4 linked regions of the Homo sapiens genome follow. The protein of the gene in region 1 purifies or fractionates together with the protein of each later gene. This does not show direct contact. Each region holds a gene or a part of one and is shown on either strand. Other genes may lie near its edges.

The links.
Region 2: the proteins of SERPINA6 (region 1) and PAM purify together in Homo sapiens (affinity purification with mass spectrometry; 3 studies listed by BioGRID and IntAct, with this or other methods). This does not show direct contact.
Region 3: the proteins of SERPINA6 (region 1) and COCH purify together in Homo sapiens (affinity purification with mass spectrometry; 3 studies listed by BioGRID and IntAct, with this or other methods). This does not show direct contact.
Region 4: the proteins of SERPINA6 (region 1) and DHFR2 purify together in Homo sapiens (affinity purification with mass spectrometry; 3 studies listed by BioGRID and IntAct, with this or other methods). This does not show direct contact.

Annotation. Positions count from the first base shown.
Region 1 is NC_000014.9:94,320,337-94,327,170, reverse strand, and holds the start of SERPINA6 (corticosteroid-binding globulin precursor), read left to right. Parts: upstream 1-3,834; 5' UTR 3,835-3,904; intron 3,905-6,834. UniProt on the Homo sapiens protein: Major transport protein for glucocorticoids and progestins in the blood of almost all vertebrate species.
Region 2 is NC_000005.10:102,750,308-102,758,332, forward strand, and holds the start of PAM (peptidyl-glycine alpha-amidating monooxygenase isoform e preproprotein), read left to right. Parts: upstream 1-4,997; 5' UTR 4,998-5,041; intron 5,042-8,025. UniProt on the Homo sapiens protein: Bifunctional enzyme that catalyzes amidation of the C-terminus of proteins. Alpha-amidation is present at the C-terminus of many endocrine hormones and neuropeptides and is required for their activity.
Region 3 is NC_000014.9:30,884,533-30,891,124, forward strand, and holds the end of COCH (cochlin isoform b precursor), read left to right. Parts: exon of another isoform or gene 1-20; coding exon 21-124; exon of another isoform or gene 125-142; intron 143-452; coding exon of another isoform or gene 453-509; intron 510-861; coding exon 862-1,088; exon of another isoform or gene 1,089-1,263; coding exon 1,264-1,780; exon of another isoform or gene 1,781-1,794; intron 1,795-4,610; exon of another isoform or gene 4,611-4,723; intron 4,724-4,851; exon of another isoform or gene 4,852-5,083; coding exon 5,084-5,259; 3' UTR 5,260-6,086; downstream 6,087-6,592. UniProt on the Homo sapiens protein: Plays a role in the control of cell shape and motility in the trabecular meshwork.
Region 4 is NC_000003.12:94,059,900-94,067,603, reverse strand, and holds the start of DHFR2 (dihydrofolate reductase 2, mitochondrial), read left to right. Parts: upstream 1-4,687; 5' UTR 4,688-4,858; intron 4,859-5,997; 5' UTR 5,998-6,092; coding exon 6,093-6,656; 3' UTR 6,657-7,704. Other genes in the region: NSUN3 (tRNA (cytosine(34)-C(5))-methyltransferase, mitochondrial), read right to left, coding at 3,058-3,167, 4,466-4,477. UniProt on the Homo sapiens protein: Key enzyme in folate metabolism. Contributes to the de novo mitochondrial thymidylate biosynthesis pathway. Required to prevent uracil accumulation in mtDNA. Binds its own mRNA and that of DHFR.

The sequences.
Region 1 (6,834 bases):
TTAACCCAATAAGCGCTGGCTCTTTTATATTTAACAAAAATGTTAAGCTTATCTATATCCTCTCACATTTTACTATAAGTATCGAGAAGTCAGACAATAACTTCAGAGACCTTCTTAGCTTCAGAGAAATATCACCAGCTATACCACCACTTCATTTGCTATATATTCAATTTTCATGTTATCACAGGTGACAATGTTGCTAAACTTTCTACCACTACATGTCAAGGATTCTCTTTCCTCTAGCTATAGCCTGTTTCTCACTTTCCTTTAAGCCCTAATCAACGGCCTCCTTGTGGGTCATCACGTTTCCACTCACAATCTTTATAAGGACTTTCCGACTCTGATTTGATCCCAAAGTCATTGCCACATGTTTGGCTTTCATATGCAGCTTTCCACTTCCAGGTGCCAAAATGTGTTCTAGGTACTATGGCTGCCTCATAAATTATCCAAAAATTTACCAGCTTGAGACAATCATTTTTTATGCTTTTGGGTTCTTGGGACAGGAATTCAGAAAAGATACAGTGGGGATGGCTTGTCTCTATTTGATGATGGCTAGGAACTTGGGTTTAGTGTTTTTAGCAAAGTATTAGTTTATCAAACTAAACTAAACTTGGTTTTAGTGTTTTTAGTAAAGAGAAACCATCATAAGATCAAAAATATAATGAATATATTTTAACTCAATGGAATAAAACTCAATCTTTTCAATGTAAGTCAGTAAAATTCACAAAAAAAAAAACAAAAATAAGATATAGCAAATGGGAAATATAAAATAAGATAATATGTCAATCCTAAGACAATTAAAATAAATGTAAAAAGGTTAATTTTGCCAATTAACAGACAAAGACCCTCCTTTGGGGATAAAAAGCTAAATCTAAAAAGATGTTTTGTACATGAGACGCTCTTAAAAAAAGAAGGCACAGGCCGGGCGCGGTAGCTCACGCCTGTAATCCCAGCACTTCAGGAGGCCGAGGCAGGTGGATCATTAGGTCAGGAGATTGAGACCATGCTGGCTGACAAGGTGAAACCCCATCTCTACTAAAAATACAAAAAATTAGCCAGGCATGGTGGTGGGCACCTGTAGTCCCAGCTACTCGGGGGGCTGAGGCAGGAGAATGGCGTGAACCCAGGAGGTGGAGCCTGCAGTGAGCTGAGCACGTGCCACTGCACTCCAGCCTGGGCGACAGAATGAGACTCTATCTCAAAAAAAAAAAAAAAAAAAAAAGAAGGCACAGAGACTTTGGAAATAAAAGGATGAAAAATATCAGGTAAGAGTGAACCAAAAGAAAGGAAAGCAATCATAACACTGTATAAAATTAAATTTAGGACAAAAGTATGCTATACAAAAAAAAAGATACAAGAAAAACAAATACAAGAGGACATAATTATCGAAAGTATATGTGCTTTAATATACAGTCTTGAAGTAAGTCAAGCAACAACTGACCAAGAGAAGTAAGTGAACAATTGCTATTGGTGATTTTAACATTCCCCAATGAGAAACTGAAAGCTTAAATAAATAATCAACATAAATATGAAGATTTAAATAAAATAAGCTCAAGTTATTACATATATACATATATGAATGTGTATATATACATATCAAACAGATATCCATTATTTTTTAAAGAAAACATGAAATGTTTATTAAAATAGGCCATATATGAGCTGGGCACGGTGGCTCACGCCTGTAATCCCAGCACTTTGGGAGGCCGAGGCGGGCGGATCATGAGGTCAGGAGATTGAGACCATCCTGGCTAACACGGTGAAGCCCTGTCTCTACTAAAAATAAAAAATATTAGCTGGGCATGGTGGCTCACGCCTGCAGTCCCAACTACTCGGGAGGCTGAGGCAGGAGAATCCCTTGAACCCAGGAGACGGAGGTTGCAGTGAGCCGAGATCACGCCACCGTACTCCAGACTGGATGACAAAGGAAGACTCCGTCTCGAAAAAAAAAAAAAAAAAAAGACCATATATGGCTATTACAAACCTCAAAACATTCCAAATGTTCAATATCATAATGGACAATATTCTTTGACCATAGTGAAATAAAATTGGAAGTGAATAACAAGAGAATAGCCTAAAATTCTAAATAAACTCAGTGACATATTACTAAACTACACTCTGGTTTTAAAGGAAACCAGAAAAGAAATTTTAAAATACTTAGAAAAAAATTACAATGAAAATAGTAATTATCAAAAATGCGTGGGACATAGCTCACTCAGTATTTAGATGAAAACTTGTAACCTTAAATACATTTATGTGGAGACTGGAAATATTAAAATGTAAGAAAGCTAAGCATTTATCTCAAGAAAATAGAAAAAAGCACAACAGACCAAAACCCAGAGAATTTAAAGGGGTGATTAAAAAATAAAGATATAAACAGAAATCAATGAAATATCAATTTTTTAAAAAACCAGTAACAAAACTAAAAGGTGGATCTTTGGAAAGATTAATTAGCTATATAGATCTCTGTAACAGGACTTATCAAAGGGAGAAAAGACATAAACAAAATACAGAACAAAAAAAGAAAAAAGAATTACTGATATAAAATAATAATGTAAAAATAATAATGGAGAGGCCTAATGAATAACTGTAGTATTTAATTTGAAAATCTAGATGAAATAGATAAATTCCTAGATATAAAGTTCAAACTTGCCTTATAGGATAGGAAACTTGAAAAGACCAATAAACATCTACAAAACTAAGGTGTCTCCAAAACTGCAGACCCATTTGTAGGCTCTACTCTCCTCTTTTCCCCTGGGAAGAGATTCCCTCATCTCTGGATGGAAGCAATGATGCTGTCAACCCAACAGAGAGCAAAGAACCCTAGCGAGGCATTCACAATGCCTCATCCTTCTCCACACTGTGATCAATCAGTCCTAAGGGGGGCAACCACGCCATAGACTTTTGGGGGGAACTGTTATGAACATTGAGAAAAATGAGAATTTCTCTCCTTCTGATATCAACTAACCAGTTAGAACTAAATAACCCAGAGCTACTGTGGCCACATTTGTCCCCAATGCAGACAGAATAAAGTAGAAGAAAGCAGAGCTAGGAAGGAATAAAAAAAAAAAAAAGACAGAGAGAGAGAGAGAAGGAGAGATCTGATGCCTGATTTAGAACTCCGTAGATCCATGCCTGAAGTCCTTTCCACCCTTGGACCTCTCATTCATTCCTTTTTGCTTTAAAGCAGTTCAAATTTGATGTCTGTCACCTGTAATCCAAAGAAAACTGATGAAAAATAAAATGTGGGGAAAGGGGAAGGTGCTAGACTTTAGAATTGAATGGCCTTGGATTTGAATCTCAAGGGCGTTTAACTTAACTTCCATGCAGCTCAGTTTCCTATCTAAAGAGGAGTGACAATGGTACCCACTTCACAGAGTCATTGTGAAGATTTCGTGAGATAATCCAGAGGAAGCGCTTGGCAGATATTATTCCATGTCTGTCTCTCCCACCAGACTAAGACCACTGGAAGGCAGGACCTTGCCCAAGTCATCCCCAATTGGAGCTAAACACCTATTTTTCTTTTTACAAGTATCTGCACCTTGGTGCTAATTAAGGGCACCTAAGACATCTCTGCCAACTGACACAGGGCAACCACATTGATGCAACTCCAGCCACATTTTGGTATTAAAAAAAGACTTCATAGAATTGAACGCAGAGCAAAGTTAATTTGCAGCATTTCTGTGTTTACTCAGCTATCCTGACAAAGCCTCCCATTGGTTAATGACTCGGGGGAGAGGACTACCAAGCGGTGAAGGCCACTGGCCCCTCTAACCATTAACCACCCAGGAAGCTGGCAAACAAAATTTAACAGGCAGCATCCACCGCAGGCTTACTGTACACATGCTAGGGTCCAGGACAGCAGGACCAAGCCAGCAGAAACAGCCTGAGCCCACCGCAGACTGTGAGTAACACCTGAGAACCCTCTGTCCCTCCCCCTGCCCAGCCTCCAGAGCAAAGCCATGGCTGCAGCTCGCTTGTTTGGTTTGTTGAGATGCTTTGTTTTTTTAAAGGGCACATTGAACATTAGGGCAGCCAGCAGTGTTATGAGGCAATCTGGTTAGGATTTTCCAGACCCCGGAGTCTGTGAGTCATCCACAGGGGTTCCGATGTCCCCTGGGTTCCTGCCATGCAGGGGGCTGACACAGAGGGCTGTAGCTAAGAACCATTCTCGTCCACTGCCATGATTGATGCTCCTAAGCCCAGCCAGATAGCCACAACAGCCACAACAGCCACAGAGTCGCAGCCTGCAAGCTACAATGCATCTGCTCCAGTCGGCACCACCGATGAAGGATGCTGGCCGCGGGTCAGGGCCTGGGAGGGCTCAGCTGGCCCAGTGCAGGGGTATTCTTCTGAGTCACGCAGACCTGTCTCCACCATGGCTCCTCACTCAGTGACCTGGGGCAGAGATAATGCACAGAGAACAGAACTGTCTGCACTGTACCACATGTCATGAGGTTTCACTACAGAAGGTCAAGAACTGTGCCTGGCTCATAGGGCATTTGTGAAAACAGAGAACACAGTGAATATTTACTAAGTGAGTCTCTTCAGAGATGAGGAACAAAGAGGGCATACTTGACATGAAATGCATGAATAATATTGATACTCTGCATTTTTATATGGCTGGGTACTTTTTTGTTTGTTTGTTTGTTTGTTTTTTAAGATGGAATTTCACTCTTGTTGCCCAAGCTGGAGTGCAATGGTGCGATCTCGGCTCACTGCAACCTCTGCCTCCTGGGTTCAAGCTATTCTCCAGCCTCAGCCTCCCGAGTAGCTGGAATTACAGGCACACACCATCACACCCAGCTAATGTTTTTGTATTTTTAGTAGAAATGGGTTTCGCCATGTTAGCAAGGCTAGTCTCGAACTCCTGACCTCAGATGATCTGCCCACCTCAGCTTCCAAAAGTGCTGGGATTACAGGCATGAGCCACCACACCTGACCATGGCTGGGTACTCTTAAGAGCTGCTTTACTCATCATTTTGCTCTCTGTAGAGATAGGCAGAATGGCATGGCACAAGCTCCGATGTCAGACATCTAGGCTTAGAATTCCAGCTCAGGGGGAGTTACTCTGTCTCCCTGGATCTCAGTTTTCTCATCTGTAAAATGGGCCCCAGGATGACCCATTAAGTGAGGTCACATAAGCCAAGCACTGATAACAGCCACGTCTGGTATTCACAACAATATTGTGGGGTGGATGGAGTTTTCACCCTCATCTTAGAGAATTAACGCAGGAGAAGGTGAGACATGCAATCTCCCCAGAGCTGGCAGGGGAGCCCATCCTACCATTGGCATCATACCGCACAGGGCCTGTGCCTGAGAGGAGATCCCAGATAGGTATGGCAGTGACCAAAGCTAAGCAAAGATTTCACTGCCTGTCATGGGGCAAGGCCATAGAGAAGCACAGATACAAGGCTTCCTGGAGGCGGTGACCTGGGACCTGAGTCTCAAAGGACAAGATGGAGTGAGCCAGATGAGGCAGGGAGATGAGGGACCTACAGACTGGAGCCACATAGGCAGGACTGAGGCAGATCCATCTTTGTTCCCTGCTCCCAGTCCAGAGCTGGGCTCAGCAAACATGGAAAAATCAAAATGACCTGCCCTGGGGAACTGCAGTGACCTGTCTTGCTGTAACCTGCCCTATAGTGATGTGACATGCCCTGCCCTGCCCCACAGTGGGAGAAAAGGCTGATGTGTGCTGGAAGAACCCCTGGCACCCAGTGTTGCTGTGGCTGAGACCCCAAAGGGCCAGATTTGAGGCTGGAGGCAGAACTGTCACCAGGGACTGGGTCACAAAGACCCCCTGGGCTACATTAGTGAGAATCAGCCCTGTGGTGGGCAATGGGGAGTCCCTGAAAACTTCAAAGCAGAACCGATCAGCTTGAATTTTTGAGAATTTAAAAAGATGCAGCTGCAGATGGGTAAAAGGGCTGGAGGGAGTTGAACAGGAGGCAGGGAGACGAGGTAGGGGCTACTGCTGAGTCCTGAGAGAGATGAGGAGGCTGTGCAGAGGCACTGGAGAATAGACAAACACCAGAAAAATGGGTAAGGCTAGAGGTGTTATTATCAGCTCTATTTTATACTGTGGAAACTGAGGCAGAGTTTAAGTAGCCTGTCCCACATCACCTAATTCATACATGGCAGTGCTAGGGCCCCAATCCAGCTTGATCTGCCACGAAACCCAGGATCTTTTCTGGGTTTCGCGACAAAAGAATTGTCGCGAGGACCCAGAAATCCAAGTCAGAAACCCGATGGAGAATTCAATAAAGCCCATCATTTGGGTGCGGGGAGTGGGGAGCAGGTCACACCTGCCTCTATTATCTAAAGCAGAGAACTAGGGGCTAGAGCAGCCAACAGGGGTTGTTTTCCACCCTGGTGAGATAAGGGAGACACGCAAGGAGGGTTTTGGGAGACTCAGGAGAACTAAGGGTTTTGCGGGGGAGTTCCCACCTGTCATTCTTGAGATTCTGCTTTTGGAACACACCAGGGAAGGGGCCTCTAGGGAATTCCAGAGCAGAACAGTGGTTCCCACGCTCGGAGCGCACCTGTTAAAAGAAAACTTTAGACAAATTAAACGTAGCAGAGTTTATTTGAGCAAAGAAACAATTCATGAATCACACAGCACCCTAAACCAGTAAAGGTTCAGAGAGTGCCACCCAGCAACGTAGGCAGTATTTACAGGCAGAAGAAGGAAGTGACATACACACATAGGCTGATAGGTTACAGCTCTGTGTTTGCCTTGTTTGAACATGTCTGAGCAGTTGGCAGGCTGTGATTGACTGAAAGTTCAGCTGCTATGATTGGCTGAGACTTGGTTACTTGTTACAAACATAT
Region 2 (8,025 bases), on another chromosome or scaffold:
TTCTTCTGCACACCCCTGGAGCTGATCAGAGTGTGTTGATCCCTTTGTTTTCAAAGGAAACTTTATGTTCACACTCTCGCTACAGGGGTTAGCAGAGTAAGACGAGAAAATAGTCCCATAGTGTTTCTGCCAGCTAATGAGGAAAATTTTTCCTCCTATATATATCATGATAGGTAATTGAATTAGTACTCCAGTAGGAAAGGGTTTGCTATTTCATACTTCTATAGTCTTTTCTTAACACCATGAAATTAAAGACATGCCAGCATGGAGCTGCCTATTCCTGATCGATTTCAAATAAGCAATGTAGTATATTATTGCTTTTATGTGCTTTTACAGCACATGCTGTGCAAGATAATTGACTCCATGACAGATGTCTATATTTCAGAGGAAAATTTATTTGTTAAAGAACAAACATGTATTACTTTAACATGGGGCTATTCATTATATTGCCCACAAGGTGCTTTTTGATGACTTCTAAATTGAAATTAATATTTTCTCTTGTCGTTCTGAATATGCATAAGCAAATTTGACTGTTTGATATAACCATTTTGAAGCTTATTCTGCTACTTGAATGTAACCTTCTGTACTCTTAGATCATGTTTGAAGTGCTGGGAAATGAGAAAGTGTGCATTTGTTTTTTTTTTAATTTTCAAAGAAGCCTGTAGGCCTGAACAGTTGCCAAGTTGTTCAGAGTAAGTTCTGTCCATCAGACCCATCTTTACATAAAATGACTATGAGAAAAGTCTTAAAGGGTACAGGAAATATTTTCCATGAATCCTCCTTTACTCTCTCACTTCTGCTTGAAATGTCACTCTTTTTCAAGGCAAACACTAGTAGGAAGTAGCATCTGAAGTCCCTAACACTTTTGTGTGAGGCAAACTGACTTGGAGAACTGGCAGTATTAGTTGGACAAGGCTGCTATGAAATAAAACTGAAAAAAGAGAGACGTTTACAAAGGAATGTCCATCTCCATCTACTTTGCAACACTGACGGAGACCAATTCTCCTGTCTGTAAATAAACCCTCCCATTCTTTTAGCTGTCAGAGTTTCTCCAGGAAGAAACTAGACCCTTTATCCTCATCAGCTGACTGGTCACCTTTTGCAGTAAGATCATACCATTAATATAAAATTAAAATAATCAATACCAAGGGATTACCATATTCAGAAAGGATATAAGTTTAATAAGGTTCTTTCAAGGACTATTTCTCTTTTGATGAGAAGAAAAAGAGAAATTTCTACCCTCTTGAACTTTCAATGGCCTAGCCTTTTGAGCATTAGAGGAAACAAGCGGGGGGCGGAGAAAGAGATTTTTTAAATTAAATTGGATATAGTATTTTTGAAAGTAAAACTGGGACACTAAGGACTAGTTTTGTAATGACAGAGTGCAGAGACAACCTCAGGTGGGGTGGAGCCCTGAGGAGAGTGAAAAGGGAGGCTTCTCCTCACCTAAGTGGAGGTGGTTGGCTCCACTGCCCAAGCTGGCCTGCACACAGAATGGAATGCCTTGAGGCTGTAAGTCTGAGGCTCTGAGGTGAGGTGCACTACTGGGCGTCTGACAGCACAGCTAAAATTGGCTGTGCCAACCAGTGAGAGGTGACAGCATGCCGGCAGCCCTCGCTTGCTCTGGGCACCTCCGTGGCCTTGGCGCCCACTCTGGCCGCGCTTGAGGAGCCCTTCAGCCCGCCGCTGCACTGTGGGAGCCCCTTCCTGCAATGGCGGAGGTCGGAGCCGGCTCCCTCAGCTTGCAGGGAGGTGTGGAGGGAGAGGCGAGGGCGGGAACCAGGGCTGAGCAGGGCGCTTGCAGGCCAGCTAGAGTTCCGGGTGGGCGTGGGCTTGGCGGGCCCACACTCGGAGTGGCCGGCCGGCCTCGCCCGCCAGGGCAGTGAGGGGCTTAGCACCCGGGCCAGCAGCTGCGGAGGGTGCGCCTGGTCCCCCAGCAGTGCTGGCCCACTGGCACTGCACTCGATTTCTCGCTGGGCCTTAGCTACCTCCCTGCGGGGCAGGGCTCGGGACCTGCAGCCCGCCATGCCTGAGCCTCCCCCAAGGCTGTGGGCTCCTGCGCTACCGAACCTCCCCAAGCCTCCTAGACTAGCGCTGCCCCCTGCTCCATCAGCACTCTGTGTCTAGCTCAGGGTTTGTGGATGCACCAATCAGCACTCTGTATCTAGCTAATCTGGTGGGGACCTGGAGAATCTTTATGTCTAGCTAAGGGATTGTGAATACACCAATCAGCACTCTGTGTCTAGCTCAAGGTTTGTAAATGCATCAATCAGCACCCTGTGTCTAGCTCAAGGTTTGTAAATCCACCAATCAGTACTCTGTATCTAGCTGATCTGGTGGGGACTTGGAGAACCTTTATGTCTAGCTAAGAGATTGTGAATACACTAATCAGCACTCTGTATCTAGCTAATCTAGTGGGACTTGGAGAACTTTTGTGTCTAACTCAGGGATTGTAAACGCACCAATCAGCACCCTGTCAAAACGGACCAATCAGCTCTCTGTAAAACAGACCAATCAGCTCTCTGTAAAATGGACCAATCAGCAGGATGTGCGTGGGGCCAGATAAGGGACTAAAAGCAGGCTGCCCCAGTAGCAACTCGCTGGGGTCCCTTTCTACACTGGAGAAGCTTTGCTCTTTTGCTCTTTGCAATAAATCTTGCTGCTGCTCACTTTTTGGGTCCACACTGCCTTTATGAGCTGTAACACTCACCACGAAGGTCTGCAGCTTCACTCCTGAGCCAGTGAGACCACGAACCCACCAGAAGGAAGAAACTCCAAACACATCCAAACATCAGAAGGAACAAACTCCAGACATGCTGCCTTTAAGAACTGTAACACTCACAGAGAGGGTCCGCGGCTTCATTCTTGAAGTCAGTGAGACCAAGAACTCACCAATTCCAGACACACCAGGACCTTGAGGGTGTGAGAGGTTACCGTCAGGTTACATTTAGAAGTGTTGTCCCAACTACTCTCCCACATTTAAGGCAAAAATATAGTCACCACTGAACAAGAAAATCATCTTGGCACAAAAATGTACTGAATTGAAGAAAGAAAACAAAGAGAAACAAAACACCATAGCCTAGAACTCCTGCCCCTCCACATTTTCTTCTCTCTCTCACACCACAAACTTTCTCTCTGTGACACACACACACACACACACACAGAGGAGAGACGTATTTGAGGGAGGGTCTCAAGTGCTTGCTTTCCTTAACAACCCAGACCAGGAGGAAGAGATAAAGTGACTTAGGAGATGCCTAAAGATGAAGAACAGCCCGGGATCCGTAAACAGACTCAGCTCGGTGTCTTCTCGCACCTTCTCAGAATCAAGTTTCCAAAATGAGGGTCATCCGCCTGCCTTGGAATTTGGGTTGGGAAGTGGATGGAGTTCCTGGACACATGCTCTAGGCCCTGACCAGTCTGGCCACTGCTCACTAGGAATTCTGTTGGGAGGGTGTACAACAGATTTTCCAACTGGTCTACAGCGAGCATCGGTAGTTTCCCTATGGAGAAAATGATTTTCTTTCTGGGAATCCCCCTATAGCCTGAAGGCTTTGCCTCATTTCCCATAGCTCCTCTCCGGTGTACCCCTTCGGTTCGCACTTTCCTACCTTCTTCCCAGTCCACTGGCTTCTCCTTCTTTATCTTCCTCAGTGTCCCTTCTCACAACCTCCCTGCTACCACACCAGATTCTGAAGGGGAGGAGTTGTCTGGAAAGACCAGAGCTGGGTGCTGGGGATCTGGAGCAGCTCGGGACCCGCGCTGCAGGGAGCTGGGATGGGAGAGGTGAGGGAGAGGAGGATGGGACTCTGGGAGAAAGAGAGGGGGCTGGGCTGGCGCTGGGGATGGAAGAGGCGAGGTGAACGCACTCAAGCGGTTACCTGCAGACAGGGAGAGACAGTGGCAAATACCTGCCTTCAATTAAACGCATATCAATTTGTGTGTGGGGTCAGTACTGCACATCATCAAGCCTCTTGGGTATAAAACCTTCCTACTGGAACTCTCCAGCCCCGCCCCCACCACCCCACGCGCGGCTCCCTGCTTTCTCTTGCTTTGGGGTGAGGCTGGGGATGTGGGTGGCTCCAGAGTTCCCTGCCCGCAGTTTAGGGGCGAAGTGATCGGTGTGTGCGCGCTGGGCACTCTGCGGGTTAAAAAGGTTTAGCAGAAAGGGATGCAGATGGAGGCGGGAAGCCAGGCTAAGAAAGGGATACCGACCTCCCTCCTCGGGTCGGAGGTGTGAACTGGGAAGCACTGCGCAGACCTGAGCGAGGTGGCCTGAATCCAGGGGCCGGGCAAGGGGGTGGTGTGAATAGAAATAGCACATTTCCCAGGCTTTCAGCCCCGGTACTCTGCCATCCTTCCAGTTCCATGCACTCAGCCAGGTCTCCAGGCTGGAGCAAGGGCTGGGGGTCAATGGGTCCTTCCTTCTCTCGGGAAACGTTCTTCTGGCGCGAAGCTGGGCGGAGGGAGAGTCGGACATTTTCCTCTGCTTCTCTCAGGGCAGCTGGCGTGGCCACCTCGCAAGGCTGCTTCTAGGGACACGAGACTCGGGAGGGTCAGAGACTTTCAGGCCGGGCCTTCACTCCCTTCCCCGGGGCACTTGGGCAAGAGTTCCAGCTCTTGGCTACCTCTGGCCCGCGCGTGAGTTCAGACACCCAGCACACGCGACCCCCGCAGGGAAACCCCGGGAAGCTGCGCGCAATCGCTGGGGACTCGCCAGGGCTCCACTTCCCAAGCTCCGCGCCCCCTGCGCCCAAAGAGGCAGGGCGGAGCAGAGGCCGCCGGCGTGGAGGAGGCGAGCGCGGGGCTGGCCCGGGAGCCGCCCCCGGGGAGGGACTGAGACCTGCCCCAGGAGTCGAGGGCGAGCGGCGGACCCGGCTGGGCCCGGCGCACGCCGAGGAGAGGGAGCCCCCGCCACCGCCGCTGCCTCCGCGTGCTCAGCCTGTCCCCGCCCAGGGAGCCGGAGCCTCCAACTAACTCCGCCCGCCGCTCCGCCGCCCGCAGGCTCCGGCTTCCGTCCCGGACAGAGCCCGTGGTCGCGCAGGTTGGTGTTGTTGCCGCTGCTGCCGCCACTGCGAGGCGGTCAGGGCAAGGGTGAGGGTGGGGGCGCGGAAGGGGGCCTGGGCTCGGGATCCTGCTGCCACCAATTCCTGGTGCCCCAGGAGGTTGTTGCTTTTTCTCCCGGGCTGCCCGGGTCGGGGGTGGGGGGATGGGGCGGGGATCCAGCGATGCGGCCAGGGAGGATTTTGGGGACTGAGCTATTCTCGCATTTCCCAAACCTCTCTCACGACCCTTCATCACCATTATTAAGTCCCTGGCCAGTTTGTGAGGGGTCGTCCTCCCCTCCGGTCCTTCTCACCTCCGCACTTCTCCTTGTGCCCTCTCCCTAGGGGGTACAATTTGTTCATTCGCCTTTTCTGCCCCCAACTTGGAGAACTCTCCGTGACGCCTAGAAAGCCTCCTCGGTTCTCCGCCCGCCCTTCAGTCTAGTTTGGGGAAGTAGAGGCCGCCGCGGAGTAGCAACCTGGGGTGTGGAGTGGGGGCGAGTGCCGGGAAGCAGTGGAAATTCCTTCCCCTCTTTCTTTCCCGTCCTTGCCCAGCTTTGCTCTCTTCCTGCCGTTTTGCCAGCCTCCGAATGTAATACGCGGGCGAAGGGCGATCTCCAAGGCAGAATGGGAAGTATCCACCACTTGGGATACTAGTTAAGTCTAGGTTCAGTCACCTTCCCAGCTCTGTGGCCTTGGGACCCGCCCCATCGGAACCTGTATGTTGTCATCTGCAAAATATGCGTCAGCTCTGCCTGCCGCTGAGGGTAGTTGTGGGGCTCCCTTGGGATGACTTAGGGTATTACGTGATTTTGAGCACGGTCTCTTGTCTCGTGCAGCTGCCTGATGGCAGGTCCTGTGTTCTGATCGTCTGAGTTCAGGTCCTTTGGCTGAGATGTGATTATCTCTCTGGGTGATTTGGTCAGTAGCTTTGCGGGGCTAAAAGGCATGTGTTCCTGGAGCTGGTCATTGGGGTTCAGAGTTGAAATCGTGTCGTCCCCACCAATCCCTGTGTACAAAGCTATGGACCTTACATCCTGTGCCTTTGTGGTCATAGAAATTCAAGTAGAAGGAAGATCTTATTGGACTTTGTTTGCTTCAGATGTTTTACATTCTTTACAATCGCTTTTCTCTTCTAGGTGCAAACTTAAATTTACTGCTAATTCTAATAATCCAGGAAGGATACTTTCATTTTAGTAAAATCAGACATTTAGCTCAAATAACATGTGACATATTGTTTGTAAATTTTCAGTTTATAATCACAGGCACAAAAAAGCATAGTTCATGCCATTCTAGTTACTTTATAAAGCAAGTAAATGGCCTAAAAAATCAGCTTTACAGGAAGTCAGGGCTGCAGTGAACTGTGTTTATACCACTGCACTCCAGCCTCGGTGACAGAGCAAGACCCTGTCTCAAAAATAAATAATCAGCTTTAGAATTGATATTAAATGGTAAGCCCTGTCGTTCCTGCATTCCTGACTTAATAGGCATTTTCATTCCGCGATGCACTCTGCTATATGCTTTAAAGATATAAAGATATAGAGTATGTTCCTTGTCCTGAAGGGCCTTCCAAGGTAACTTAAAGACTATGTAGTTTTATTTCATATTTTTATATGAACAGTCTTCTAATGACTATACATGGCAAGTAGAATGAGGTCAAGAATGCATTATCAAAGGCCCTTTAAGATCATCATTTGGCCGGCTGCGGTGGCTCACGCCTGTAATCCCAGCACTTTGGGAGGCCGAGGCGGGCAAATCACAAGGTCAGAAGTTCCGTACCAGCCTGGCCGACATGGTGAAATCCCATCTCTACTAAAAATACAAAAAATTACTTGGGCATAGTGGCAGGCACCTGTAATCCCAGCTACTTGGGAGACTGAGGCAGGAGAATCGCTTGAACCTGGGAGGTGGAGGTTTCAGTGAGCTGAGATCACTCCACACACTCCAGCCCTGGTGACAGAGTGAGACTCTCTCAAAAAAAGATAAAACTAAATAAATAAATAGATAAAAAATCATTTGGTGAGTTTGCATAATTGGAAGAAATAACAAGTTTGTTAAGACATTGCTTTCTAAAATAAAATGCCATGTGCTCCTACTTCATCAAGGTGCACTTGGAAATAAAATGAATTCTGTGTTTTTAGAATGAAAGCTTAGGAAAACATTCTACACATGTATGATGTGCTAATCAAATGTTAAAAGCTATAGAAATTTTAATTCTAACTTCCTTCAACTGTATGTTGTGGTTCCCACATACAGTTTTTTTCTCAACTCCTTGAGGAAGGAAATTATAATGCCTAGAAAAAATATACAGAGATTTAATGTAAGATTTTTAATAAGCTGGACCTTAAGGCCTGGTGGGTCCTGAAGTGACTCTGGAAATTTGACTTTAAAAGTTACGAGACTTGGTGAGACTGAGTGTGGTGGCTCATGCCTGTAATCCCAACACTTTGAGAGGCTGAGGCGGGAGTATTGCTTGAGTTCAGGAGTTTGAAACCAGCAACATAGTGAGACCTTCTCTCTACAAAAAATATTAAAAGAAAAAAAAAGCCAGGTGTGGTGGTGCACGCCGGTAGTCCCAGCTACTCAAGAGGCTGAGGAGGGAGGATCTCTTGAAACTGGGAGGTTGAGGCTATAGTGAGCTGTGATCATGCCACCACACTCCAACTTGGGCCACAGAGAGAGGCCCTGTCTCAAAAAAAAAAAAAAAAAAGACTTAGAATTTTGTTTTTTTTTTTTTTTTTTTTTTTTTTTTTTTTTTTCTTGGGGCAAAGAATGAGCAAGAATTCCACCTGGAAAAGATTGACCAGGGATCTTGACTTTCTGTCTAGGTTGTATTTTGTGTGACTCAGTGACATCTCTGATTCTTTTCCTCCTCCTAGGAAGAATTTATCTATCTGCTATGTGCAGAATTTATTAGGCTTTACATACTGGGCTTTGAGGCTTTGATTGGACTCTCACATTAAGGCATGGCAGGCTGAGGGGC
Region 3 (6,592 bases), about 63 Mb from region 1:
ATTTTCTTTCTTCCACTCAGTGAACATCCCAAAATAGAATTTTACTTGAAAAACTTTACATCAGCCAAAGATGTTTTGTTTGCCATAAAGGAAGTAGGTTTCAGAGGGGGTAATTCCAATACAGGTAAGTAGACTTTGATACCTGGGATGTAACATAGGAGAGGGTTATCAGTGATCAGACATGTAAAACAGTATTATGCTATTTTATATGAGCAGATGTGAAATCCTCCTGGAACTGAAATCTTGGCTAGGTCTGCATTTGATCATCTGAGATAAATTTTCAATTTATAATGGAAGTATACCAAAGTGTTGATATTTCTTATTTTAAAAAATATAAAGCATGGTGATTTAGAATTCTCATACATTGGATTGACTAGATATAACATTGGAGAAGTATCTCTTTGTAATGCTAAAAAGAAGTGAAAATCAACAGACTTATCTAATGAATGCAGATGTGGCAGAAAGAATGAGTAGCACTACCGTTGACTCTGAAGAGAGACTTCTTAGAGGTACTAATCAGTCACCAAAGGGCTACATAGAGAGCACATGCATGGAAGTGGGAATCAGTTTTGTGTTTCTAACTGGCGATTGATGTGGGGTAAACAAATGTGAGGCTTCTAGGAGGTGGAGGGGGAACTAATATGGCTTGTGAAGATAAATAGGCCTGGTAGATAATTAAACTTTCCCAGCTGATGCATCTGTTACAGAACTGGGTTCTATATAATTCTTTTTTGTGTGCCCCGCCCCACTGCCAGTTCTATATATAATTCTTAAACTTTGCAGCATCAAATGCTACAGGGAAACAGAAATGTGGTTTGAGCAGTGGTAAAGGCTATTTGTTTGCTTCTTTTTCAAATTTAGGAAAAGCCTTGAAGCATACTGCTCAGAAATTCTTCACGGTAGATGCTGGAGTAAGAAAAGGGATCCCCAAAGTGGTGGTGGTATTTATTGATGGTTGGCCTTCTGATGACATCGAGGAAGCAGGCATTGTGGCCAGAGAGTTTGGTGTCAATGTATTTATAGTTTCTGTGGCCAAGCCTATCCCTGAAGAACTGGGGATGGTTCAGGATGTCACATTTGTTGACAAGGTAAAGTGGTGAGGGTTATCTTCTGTTACAGTGATGGGTATTCCATTTTGGACCTCTAAGTGCAGTGCTGACTGCCTCTTATCTAGATTAACTTGAAACATTCAGGATTTTCCAGTTTTTAAGAAGAAACAACTTTTGATCCTTTTGGATATCTTTTATGTGTCTCCCCCATTAGGCTGTCTGTCGGAATAATGGCTTCTTCTCTTACCACATGCCCAACTGGTTTGGCACCACAAAATACGTAAAGCCTCTGGTACAGAAGCTGTGCACTCATGAACAAATGATGTGCAGCAAGACCTGTTATAACTCAGTGAACATTGCCTTTCTAATTGATGGCTCCAGCAGTGTTGGAGATAGCAATTTCCGCCTCATGCTTGAATTTGTTTCCAACATAGCCAAGACTTTTGAAATCTCGGACATTGGTGCCAAGATAGCTGCTGTACAGTTTACTTATGATCAGCGCACGGAGTTCAGTTTCACTGACTATAGCACCAAAGAGAATGTCCTAGCTGTCATCAGAAACATCCGCTATATGAGTGGTGGAACAGCTACTGGTGATGCCATTTCCTTCACTGTTAGAAATGTGTTTGGCCCTATAAGGGAGAGCCCCAACAAGAACTTCCTAGTAATTGTCACAGATGGGCAGTCCTATGATGATGTCCAAGGCCCTGCAGCTGCTGCACATGATGCAGGTAAGGTCCTTGTTCTTTATAGGAGAAGGGAACAGAAAAAACGGTTCAGTGAATTTAGGAGTAAATAAAAATTTAAGCATTTATTTCATTAAACAAACACCTGTGGCTTTACCCAATATTAACTGTTAAAGCAGCCCTACTCATCTCATTCTACAGATAAGGAAGCAAACTTCCTGGAAATGACATTTCTAGTAAGTGGCAAGGCCAAGATCCAAACCCAGGCATTCTGGCTCCAGAGTGCACATTCCTAACCACTGTATTGTTGGGAGAATTGCCATGAGAACCATGTCACATTAAGGAAATATGCTTATACATATACAATTAAGGTGCTCATATTTAGCTCAAACTTGGACTATATCTCCAAATAGCCAGCTTATAACCTACCATGAATCTGCCATTCAGTAATTTATCCTAACTTTCTTGTGTATGAAACAGGTAATTGCTCTGTCACCAGGCTGGAGTGCAGTGGCATGTAGTGAGCTACAACCTCCAACTATTGGGCTCAAGCAATCCTCCTGTGTCAGCCTTCCAAATAGCTAGGACGACAGGCACATGCCACTGCCCCTGGCTAATTTTTAAATTTTTTTGGGGAGAGACGGGGGTCTCACTTTGTTGCCCAGGCTGATCTCAAACTCCTGGGCTCAAGCAATCCTCACACCTTGGCCTCCCAAAGTGCTGGGATTACAGGCATAAGCCACCACACCCAACCCTAACTTTTATTTTAGTCAAGTTTTGTCTGGCATGAGTTTCCTAAGATAAGGTCTCCCATAGACTTTACCTATCCCATCAAAATTTCCTTGGCCAGGTGCAGTGGCTCACATCTGTAATTCAGCACTTTGGGAGGCTGAGGTGGGCGGGATCACCTGAGGTCAGGAGTTCAAGACCAGCCGGGCCAACATGGTAAAACCCAGTCTCTATTAAAAATACAAAAATTAGCTGGGTGTGGTAACATACACCTGTAATCCCAGCTACTCAGGAGGCTGAGGCACGAGAATCACTTGAACCCAGGAGGCAGAGGTTGCAATGAACTGAGATCGTGCCATTGTACTCCAGCCTGGGCGACAGAGTGAGACTCTGTCTCAAAAAGAAAAAAAAAAAAAAAAAAAAACTTTTTCCCCCCCGCTTAAGATAATAAAAACACACTCTGGTGTTATAAAAGGGTATAAGAAGGGTTTCTTTCTTCCTCACCCCAGCCTTAATATTACTTTTGGCACAGGCCTCGTTCCTGAAGACATTAACGTAATGTGTTAGAGATCAAATAGGCCAACAAAAAGCTAAGATTCCCTTTCTGAGGATATAACTGAGTGACAGGAGGGAAGAATCAATGGACTTGTTTTTTTTAACACTCTTCTGTACCTCATTTTCCCTACTTAATTCCTAATGACATAACCTTTTTCCTTTCTACACATTAGTACCTCTGCCAATGTACTCACATATTTTTACAGATACTGATGAAAGATTATTCTTAAAACAGAGAACACATGCAATTTAAGTTCCACATCTAGCTTGTAAAAAGTATTTTTTATACATCAGCAACTAGCCTGTGAAGTAAAGACCTGTTTACTATCATATTCCTTAATACTTAGCTTACTGAACTTATAGTTAACAGGATTGTATTCAGGCTATAAAGTGATTAGGTTGATTAAAGTTCAGGAGGCTGGACTACACCAATATTGATTCGTGAAAATTATCCCTTAGTGATATTGAAAGTTGCAAAAGCCAGAAAATAGGGTAGGATTTTAGGGGTAGATCACAACAGTTTTTATTTATTTTCAGGGTCTTGCTCTGTCACCCAGGCTGGAGTACAGTGGTGTGATTATTTTTTTTTTTAACTGTAATTATATGCTGGGCTTGAGCTAAACAATCTGAACTAGAATGTAGAACTGAAAAGAAGTGAGGAAAACTGAGGGGGAGGAAAAAAATATTTTGACTTTTTTTTTTTTTAACCAGGGAGTGAGAGTCAGGAAAAGGAGACTGGAACAATTGGACATTGTTCCAAGTAGCTTTTACATCATCTAAACCTGCTGCATATCTTAGGTATTTACCACTCTGAGCACTGTATACCACTAGAAGGGGAATGAAACCTTAGATCTGTAGAGGAAAACTATTACAGAAACTCCAAAAGTTATAGAAAATTGCACCCAGCATTAGATAGATGGTACTCTACACTAAGAATCTGCTAAATGAGGCCAGGTGTGGTGGCTTATGCCTGTAATCCCAGCACTTTGGGAGGCCGAGGCAGATGGATCGCTTGAGCCCTGGAGTTCGAGATGAGACCAGCCTGAACAACATGGTGAAACCCCATCTCTACAAAGAAATTTAAAAATTAGCTGGGCTTAGTGGCATGCGCTTGTAGTCCCAGCTATTTGAGGATGGGGGTGCTGAGGAGGATAGTTTGAGCCCAGGAAGTTGAGGCTGCAGTGAGCCTTGATTGTACCACTGCACTCCAGCATGGGCAAAAGAGCCAGACCCTGTCTGAGAAAAAAAAAAAAAAAAGATTAAATGAAAACTTCTACAATTGGGATTGGGGTGAATCCAACTAATGTATTATTACCCTAAATGTACAGTTGTACTAAAAGCCTTCTAGTAACTAAAGTGAATGGAAATAGAATACCTCAATGAAACTGGAAGAAATTACTCCAGTTTCATAAGATCCCTCTTGGGCAGTACTTTTTAGTCACTAGTTTTGCTTTGGGATTATAGGCTGACATTTTCTGATTATTAGACAGTTTGCCAATATAAAGATTGAAATGGAAGAGGATTTTTCATTATCAGAGGACTAGTCACCATTCCTCAAACAATGCAACCTTTGAACACTTTTGCTATTTACTTATCCCATCTCTTGTGCCATTCTTCCTTGCTTTAATGGATTGTGACTCTGACTCCAGTATACTGTTTGATGCAGGCCAACCTCATACGGAAAATTTTCACCATCCGCATTTACTGTAGGATTTTAAAAAAGATACTGTGGATCAGGTTAAAAGTCTTCTTCTATTCCTAGTTTATAGGTGTGTTCTGTCATTAATGGATATTGAACTTTATCAAATTATTTCTTATCAGTGATGACTTACCTGTTAATGTGGCGAATTACAGATATAGCAGAGTTTCTGGTTTGGACCACTCTTTTGCCACTCTCGTCACAATGACTGTGAAAACTTAATTTGTTCAGGGGATTTAATTGTCCAGAAATTAGTAAGCAGTTTTCGCTGCAACTATGTAACAGTGTATGGAAAACATATAGACATAATTCCATATATTAGCTAGACCTGATTTTCAATTCACTTTAAAATGTTTTCATTGTAGGAATCACTATCTTCTCTGTTGGTGTGGCTTGGGCACCTCTGGATGACCTGAAAGATATGGCTTCTAAACCGAAGGAGTCTCATGCTTTCTTCACAAGAGAGTTCACAGGATTAGAACCAATTGTTTCTGATGTCATCAGAGGCATTTGTAGAGATTTCTTAGAATCCCAGCAATAATGGTAACATTTTGACAACTGAAAGAAAAAGTACAAGGGGATCCAGTGTGTAAATTGTATTCTCATAATACTGAAATGCTTTAGCATACTAGAATCAGATACAAAACTATTAAGTATGTCAACAGCCATTTAGGCAAATAAGCACTCCTTTAAAGCCGCTGCCTTCTGGTTACAATTTACAGTGTACTTTGTTAAAAACACTGCTGAGGCTTCATAATCATGGCTCTTAGAAACTCAGGAAAGAGGAGATAATGTGGATTAAAACCTTAAGAGTTCTAACCATGCCTACTAAATGTACAGATATGCAAATTCCATAGCTCAATAAAAGAATCTGATACTTAGACCAAAAGCAACATTCGTTCTCTAACCATTCTGTATTGATTATATAAGCAAAATGAAAAGAGAAACTTAAATGAACACAGCTCTTTAACATGGTTCAGGTACACATATTTTGACCCAAGTGGATATTTTCTTAAAACCAATCAATAATAGCTAGCTATTACTGCAGACTATAAAATCTGGATATAGAAAGGAGACCTGTATCAAACTGCTTTTGTAGTGTGTTTTCATAACAACTTATGACTAAAAATATCACACTGAATAAGAGAGCAGGATTGCCAGGTATTTTTCTATTTCTCTCCTTAATTTTATATGTATATAGATATATTTGGCTTATATTCTAAGTCACCTAAGTACTTAAAAGTTAAGTTGGTAAAGTATTTACTGACTGCTTATAAACATTTAAAGACAAAGACATTTCAAATAACTGCAGAAAAAATATTGTAGTTTGAATATTTAAGCAATAAAACTGCTAGTGAGTTATTGTAAGCTGGCTTACTTTTATTACTGCTAGTGTCTCCCCTGAGGATATGGTAAAAATTCATGTGGAAAGACCAATCTGAATTGTTTTTTAAATCATGTAATAATACCAAGAATATTTTTTCTTTGATTCAATTATTTATTGAGGCCAAGCACAGTGGCTCATGCCTGTAATCCCAGCACTTTGGGAGGCTGAAGCAGGAGGACTGCTTGAGGCCAAGAATTCAAGACCAGCCTGGGCAACATAGTGAGAACCCCCTCTACAAAAAAGAAAAAAAAATTAGCCGGGTGGGATGGTGCATGTCTGTAGTCTGAGCTACTTGGGAGGCTGAGGTGGGAGGACTGCTTGAGCCGAGGAGGTCAAGGCTACAGTGAGCCATGATCACACCACTGCACTCCAGCTTGGGTGACAGAGCAAGACCCTATCTCCAAAATAAAAAAAAAAATAAAAAGACACAAGTTTATCGAATACCTACTGTCCTAGGCATTATACACAGCCACTACCTGATTAAACA
Region 4 (7,704 bases), on another chromosome or scaffold:
GGCTGTTGCAATATGCCAGATAAGAGATTGGGAAGGTCTAAGTGAATGGCAGCAGTAGAGAATTTTTTTAAAAAGATCCAAATTAAAAGGGGGCAGGGTAGTTGAGTCTCAAAGACAACTCTCACTTCTGACACCAATTACAAGTTCAGGGATTCCAAGGATGACTCTCAGGTTTGATTATTCACTGGGACACAACCGAACTCACTGAAAGCTGTTATAATCACAGTTATAGTCACAGTTTATTATAATGAAAGCATACAGATTAAAAACAATCACAGGAAGAGACTCATAGTGCAGAATTCACAACAATTCAAAGCATGAAGCTTCCAGCTGTCCTCTCCAACGGAATCATCAACGAGGTCAACTTTTGCTGGCAGTAATGTATGACAGTATGCACAAGAGTATTGCCAACCAGGGACACTCACCAAAGCCTTGGTATCCACTTTTTATTGGGGCTTGGTCACGTATATATGATTGACTGTCCATACAGCTTTTAGTCACAAGCCCTTCTGGATGTTGAGTTGACACCTGTGGTCCCCAGGCCTCAACATAAATCACATCGTTAGATTATCAGGTGTGACCTCAACACCCAGGTAAACAAAGACACACTTATCAGGAAGCACATTCCAAGGGCTTAGAGATCGCCTCCCAGGAGCTGAGGGCAGTTGCCAGACCTATTTTTATATAAGGTTCATTTTTTACTACAAAGGTAGTGAAGGTATAGAGAAGAAAGGAGGAAACCAGACTGATGGTGATACACTTAATTGAGATAAAATATGCAGGTAGCAAAGGCAACATAAGTTTGAAAGGGAAAAATAATAATACACTTTTGAGTTTGCCAAGTAACTGAAGTTGCTAAAAAACAGAAGTATGGGACTAAATCTTAGGAAGAACCTCACAGCTTGAGATGACAGCATACTGATAAAAGTCATGCCATGAATGGGCTTACCTGAGGAGAACATGGAGGCAACAAATAGAGCAAGAATTGAACCAGGGTAAACTCCAATTTTAAAGGGCTGCTCAGAGGATGACTAGACAAGAAAGGTTACTAAAAAAGAGCAAAACTAAATACTAAATCTTCCTCACTACTACAGGAAACTAAAAATATTGAATAAATTACTTTCTAAATAGGCCAAAAAAAGAGCACTTGACTTTCCCTGGAAGTAGACTCTACAAGTACATTATGTCTTGCAAACAAGCAGTTAAAACACAAAATATTTCATTCTGTTCTTATTTCCCCATACCATCTTCCATGCTCAGACTACTTCCTAAGCTGAGAAACCTTTATTTTGCCTATGGCAAATTTAGTGTGTGTTTATGCAAAACTTAAATTACCACAAAAACCCCACAATAGGGTAAATGAAGCAGAAGGCACAGCTAATTAAATGGATTTGAGGTTCATTGCTCATTTTGCTCAGGGTCAAATAATAGTATATGACTTTCTGAGTACACTAAGTAGAAAAATAAGTCATTATAGGATATGAGTAGCCAGACTGCTACAAAGTCTACAGAAAAAAAAAAAGCCTCTTGAAATCTTTTTTTTTTTTAAATCACATCCCAGATATGAGACAGTACAGAACAAGGATGAGCTGTGGGAGTTATTGAGTCAGACAACCCAGGCACAAGCCTCAGCTCTGCCACTTATTAGCTGAGTGAACTTGGGCAAATTACTTAAACTCTTAACGGGTTTGTTCTGAGGATCATGTAAGTCAGTATTGTCTGGCATATAGTAAACATGCAATAAGTGTTTGGTTATTTGGATACTCTATTTGAGTACCTTTGTATACTGAAAACCTCATAAATTTATTACATACTTTATTATTCAGTTCTTCATCTCTGTGACAGAAAATACCCATTTGAAAATCTACTTTTGAAATAAAACCCACGAGTATAAACGGTTTGCATATTACAGCATTTACCAATTTCTATAACAGCTTAATTGTCCTAAAATTATCTCAGAATCACCTCAGACTTTGTGATCTTTATTAGCCAAAACTTAATTTGTTTTAGAAAATGCTCAGAACTGCCCTTTGTAAAGGAGAAATGCTTAAGAGTTGATCCAAGAAAAAAATGGACAAGCCAACCATCTGAAAAATTAGTCTGGACCAAGTTCCAGATAATATCTGTAGCCATGCAACTTTTTTTCCTCATGCAACATGTAGTGGGCTTTTGCCCTAACTTCATGAACAGTGCACCTTCTTCCCTCAACCTAGGAGGCCTAGTTCTTTTTGTCAAAGTAACTCCTCTAAGTCACCAAGACCCAGCTTCCCTTCAGGCCTTTGCTGGCACCCTCAGGCTTTGTTAGATACTTGGATCACAGTATTTACAAATTAGTTTATATAGTTGTAACCACACCCATCTCCTCACTTCTCCCATTAACACTAACTAGACGGCATGTAAACTGGACATGCAGACTGTCTTGCTCTGTATTCCAGAGAGGGTTATATAGTGTATCAGGCACTCAATGTCAAGAACCCATACAGTAATCCATACATTAACATCATCTTACCAAACAGACAAATCACATTTCTCCCACTTCCATGCATTAAACATTCCTTATTTTTATATTTAAATAATTTTGTGTGTATATGCACGTGTTCAAAATATACCCAGCCATCGACATAGGAAAGAAATATGATTACCAAATAAAGTGTACCTTTGGCTGAGATAAAGCAGTGCTGGCTTTAAAGATTTGTTGTATTATCTTCTAAATTTCAGAAATCAGTCAAATATTCCAAATTTTATGTTTTTTTCTTTTACAGTATAATTAATTTTGTCAAACTAGTGGGCATTCCTATTTCAAGGATCAAAGTAATTGCTCAAAGCAAAGGCGTAACAATTTGTGCTTACCATCCCGACAAAGTTTTATTTCCCCTTTCCAACATGCTATGATTCATTCTATTTCTTCTTAGTTGTTCCTTTCTATAGCTTCAGTAGGAAAAGGCAACCAGATTTAGATTCCTTTGCCTTTTAACCTCACAGCATCCCTCCCACAAAAAGGAGGACTACATATTGTACTTTGTTCCATCATAAAGCATCGAGATGAATTATACTAACCTTACTGTATTCCAGGCATCTCCGAGTTCTTTGGAATACTGTTTTTCAAAATGATCCAACACAACTTTGCAAATCTGTTTTGCAAGCTTCCCCTCTGATTTTGCTTTCAGCTATGACGATAAGAAAAAGTTGCTGACACACAGTGATATTACAAATTTACTGAACGTCAACATTAGCAAGGTCTTTTTTTAAGACAAGAACACTTTTTTTGGATAATTACTAGTTCTTGAAATGGAAGCAATACCTTACATGTACCAAAACTGTACATTATCTAATTATGAAAAAGCAAGGTTTTTCCAAATAATTATTTTCCAAATGTGAAGCAAAGGTTAAAACAGAATCTACTGGGGCTGAAGAAACTGTCAAAAGGAACAAAATTAATTTTAAAAAGTCACTGTAGGGGCTAGGCAGGTGGCTCACACCTGTAATCCCAGCACTGTGGGAGGCAGAGGCGGGAGGATCACATGAGGTCTGGAGTTCAAGACCAGGTTGGCCAACACGGGAAACCCGTCTCTACTAAAAATACAAAAATTAGCCGAGAGTAGTGGTGGGCGCCTGTAACCCCACCTACTCAGGGGGCTGAGGTGGGAGAATCGCTTGAACTCAGGAGGTGGAGGTTGCAGTGAGCCGAGATCGCGCCACTGTACTCCAGCTGGCTCATGCTTTGCAGGGACGAGGCGAGAGGATCATTTCCCAGTTCAAGACCAGACTGGAAAACATATCAAGGACGTGTCTCTACAAAAAGTAAAAAAAAAAAAAAAATTAGCCAGGCGTAGTGGCCTGCTCCTGTAGTCCTAGCTACTAGGGAGGCTGAGGCTGGAGGATCGCTTGAACCCAGGAGTTCAAGGTTACAGTGAGCTATGATGGAGCAGCTGCATTCCAGATTGGGTGACAGAGCAAGAACTTGTATCTAAACAAAACTAAAAAGTCACCGGGGATGCTGACATCAAGAAAAATTGGTGAAAGGTATTTGAGAACTCTGTACTATCTTTGCAACGTTATTTTAAAGTGAAAAGTTAATTTAGGGAGAAAAGTCACTCCAATTTCATCGTGAACTTCCTTGCAATTGTTTCATTTATTCATCCAAGAAACGTGTATTCAATGCCTACTATGTAACAGACACTGTTCTAAGCTCCCGGGATACCGCTGTGACACAGAAAACAAATCTCAGCCCTCCAAGAGCTGGAGGGAGTGGGTACTAGAAGTCTGCGAGCTGGACGGAAGGGACTCAGCATTACAGCACTCAGCATTATTTCAGGGCTTGACAGTAAAGCCAAAGAAACGCTGATCTCGCGAGGGGACGAACAAAGGTGATGTTCCCCCATCCCAGCACCCTCCCTCGCCACCTCGGCCGCGTCCAGAAGCGTCTCATTCAGATAGAGGTACCCAGCCGGGCCCCAGGTCTCACCTGGGTCAGCATTGTCCCGCTGAGAGCTTTCAAACAACAGGTGTACGCGAATCAGTATCAAAAAGCCTCCAGGGAACTGAAAAAAACAGTCTGACTTCCGGGATTCGCGGGCATCCACTTTCATTCTCACGTTTCCTCTTCAATTTCTCGCGAGATACTGATTTGCTCGCGCTATAGAATTCTTGTCGAAGAGGCTTAGCTCCCGCGGGAGATTTCGTGCGCAGTTACTTCCGGTAGCTGGTAAAGGCTGATACTTCCCAGGACGCGGAGGTAACGGGCCAGGGCCAAAGCGACTTTCGCTACTTGGATTGGTCGGCGTAGCTTTGGGCGGCCGGACCTTAGAAAGTCACACATCTGCGCGCCTGTGCGGCCCCTGCTTCTGCGGATGCTGAGGTGGGAGGATCGCTTGGGCAGAAGTTTGAGGTTGCAGTGACCCGTGATCGCGCCACTGCACTGCAGCGTGGGCGACAGAGCGAGGCTTTGTCTCAAAAATAAATAAAAAGTCGCATATTGTGCTGAACAGTGTGTATATGCATGGGGCTCAATAAAGGAATGAGTTTTGGGGTTATGTTGTATGATGACTGATTTAAAATATTCTCAAAGCGAAGCTAGTTACTGACTTAATCTACCAAATCTAGTGACCCCTGTTAACCTAGACATTCAGTACCCAAGGATAAAAGGGTGGAATATAATGAAAAAGAAATTAAGTCATGCTTTTCCCCAGACCTGGCCCATGGGGATAATCTCTCCTTTTAATGGAGAGTGTTAAACTGAAGTAGGCATGTAAAGCGGTTACAACAGTGATTAGGAAACAGTAAATGCCCAAATGTTAGCTGCTATTATTTTCACTATTGTGATCATTGTGATTTTTGTCGCGTTGATACCAAATGCGTGAAGACCAAAAGGACCCTCCACTCTAGCCTCCCCAATTCACCTTTACAAGGGAGCAATGTTTAATGGTTCTCCAAGGAAGATGTTTATTACACCTATTTTGACACGAATAGAAGTTTATTTGCTCTTTTGGTGTCATGCTTCAGTAACTATCATTTGTAGCAGCAATCAGCAATTAGAAAAAACCGGTTTGATATGGTCCCTGATAGTTAATAATCATCATTTTGAGTTGTTCCTTGATGCTCATATCAATATACGTACATGCTATAGGTACAAGTCTTATATTCATGTAAAAACATGTCTTTCCTTCTAATCTGATTTGAAGCTTAATATATTTATTTATTTAAACAAGTTTCCAAGTCACCTAAAAAATGCATCTTATTAGAATTTAGATTTGGTACAAAAGACTATGATAATCAGGAATGAAATGATGCCATCTCTTGGATGCCGTCTGTTTAATGTTTGTGGAAAAGTCGGTCTAACCTTTCAGCCTCTGTATTTTTTATAATTTTATAAATTTATATTTTATAAATATTTTATAAATTTATACTTTATAAATATATTTTATATAATTTATTTTTCTATGTTCATTCCAGAATGTTGCAATTAATTAATACAGTGGTATTGTATTTGCAATGTAGGCACGTAAAAAAATTTGAAGAAGGGAATTTCGCGGCATTCTTGGCCTGGCTTCCTGGCGTAGCCAGCAAGTTCGGAGGTGTTAACCGCTGCTGTCATGTTTCTTTTGCTAAACTGCATCGTCGCTGTGTCCCAAAACATGGGCATCGGCAAGAACGGGGACCTGCCCAGGCCGCCGCTCAGGAATGAATTCAGGTATTTCCAGAGAATGACCACAACTTCTTCAGTAGAGGGTAAACAGAATCTGGTGATTATGGGTAGGAAGACCTGGTTCTCCATTCCTGAGAAGAATCGACCTTTAAAGGATAGAATTAATTTAGTTCTCAGCAGAGAACTCAAGGAACCTCCACAAGGAGCTCATTTTCTTGCCAGAAGTTTGGATGATGCCTTAAAACTTACTGAACGACCAGAATTAGCAAATAAAGTAGACATGATTTGGATAGTTGGTGGCAGTTCTGTTTATAAGGAAGCCATGAATCACCTAGGCCATCTTAAACTATTTGTGACAAGGATCATGCAGGACTTTGAAAGTGACACGTTTTTTTCAGAAATTGACTTGGAGAAATATAAACTTCTGCCTGAATACCCAGGTGTTCTCTCTGATGTCCAGGAGGGGAAACACATCAAGTACAAATTTGAAGTATGTGAGAAGGATGATTAATATGAAGGTGTTTTCTGGTTTAAGTTGTTCCCCCTCCCTCTGAGAAAAGTATGCATTTTTACATTAGAAAAGGGACTTTTGTTGACTTCAGATCTATGGATAATTATTTCTAAGCAACGTGTTTTTATTCCTCACTAATCTTGGCTATATCAGATACCATTTATGAAACATTCTTGCTATAACTGTCTCTCCAAGACCCCGACTGAGTCCCCAGCACCTGCTACAGTGAGCTGCCATTCCACACCCATCACATGTGGCACTCTTGCCACTCCTTGACATTGTCAGGCTTTTCTAATGTTGGTAGTATTTATTAAAGATGAAGATGCACATACCCTTCAGCTGAGCAGTTTCACTAGTAGGAAATACCAAAAGCTTCGTACATGTATATCCAGAGGTTTGTAGACAAATGTTGCAGCCTTTTTTGTAACAGTGAAAAACTGAAAACAACCTGGAAGTCCAGTGATGGGAAAATGAATATATTTCTGTCTTAGATTGGGGAACCCAAAGCAGATTCCAAGACTGAAATTTAAGTGAAAGCAGTTTATTTGCTAGGTCATACCAGAAGTCATCAATCGAAGTATGGAGAAATGGAACTGAGAAGGTAAAAACCAGTTCAAAATCAGTGAGGAGGTTCTCAATGGTAACGAGCTCCATACTGCTGAGATACAGGGAAACGGAGGGGAGAAAGCTAGAGTATTTAACCCCCACTCCTTGGTTGTCAGCTCCCTGTCCTGTGTGTGGGCAGAACGTACTCCACCTACTCAATAGCAAGTTCCAGGTGTTTGCTGAAAGAAGCTGCTGTAATGTACGGGAACGGTGAATGCCAAACACTTAAAGCAATTCCATGTTTAAGTATGTAAACTCTTCATACTTTTTTTTTTTTTTCTTTTTAAGACAGAATTTCACTCTTGTTGCCCAGGCGGAGTGCAATGGAACAACCTTGGCTCACGGCAACTTCAGCCTTCCCAGGTTCAAGCAATTCTCCTGCCTCAGGCTCCTGGGTGGCTGGGACTACAGGCGCGTGCCACCACGCCAGGCTAATTTTGTA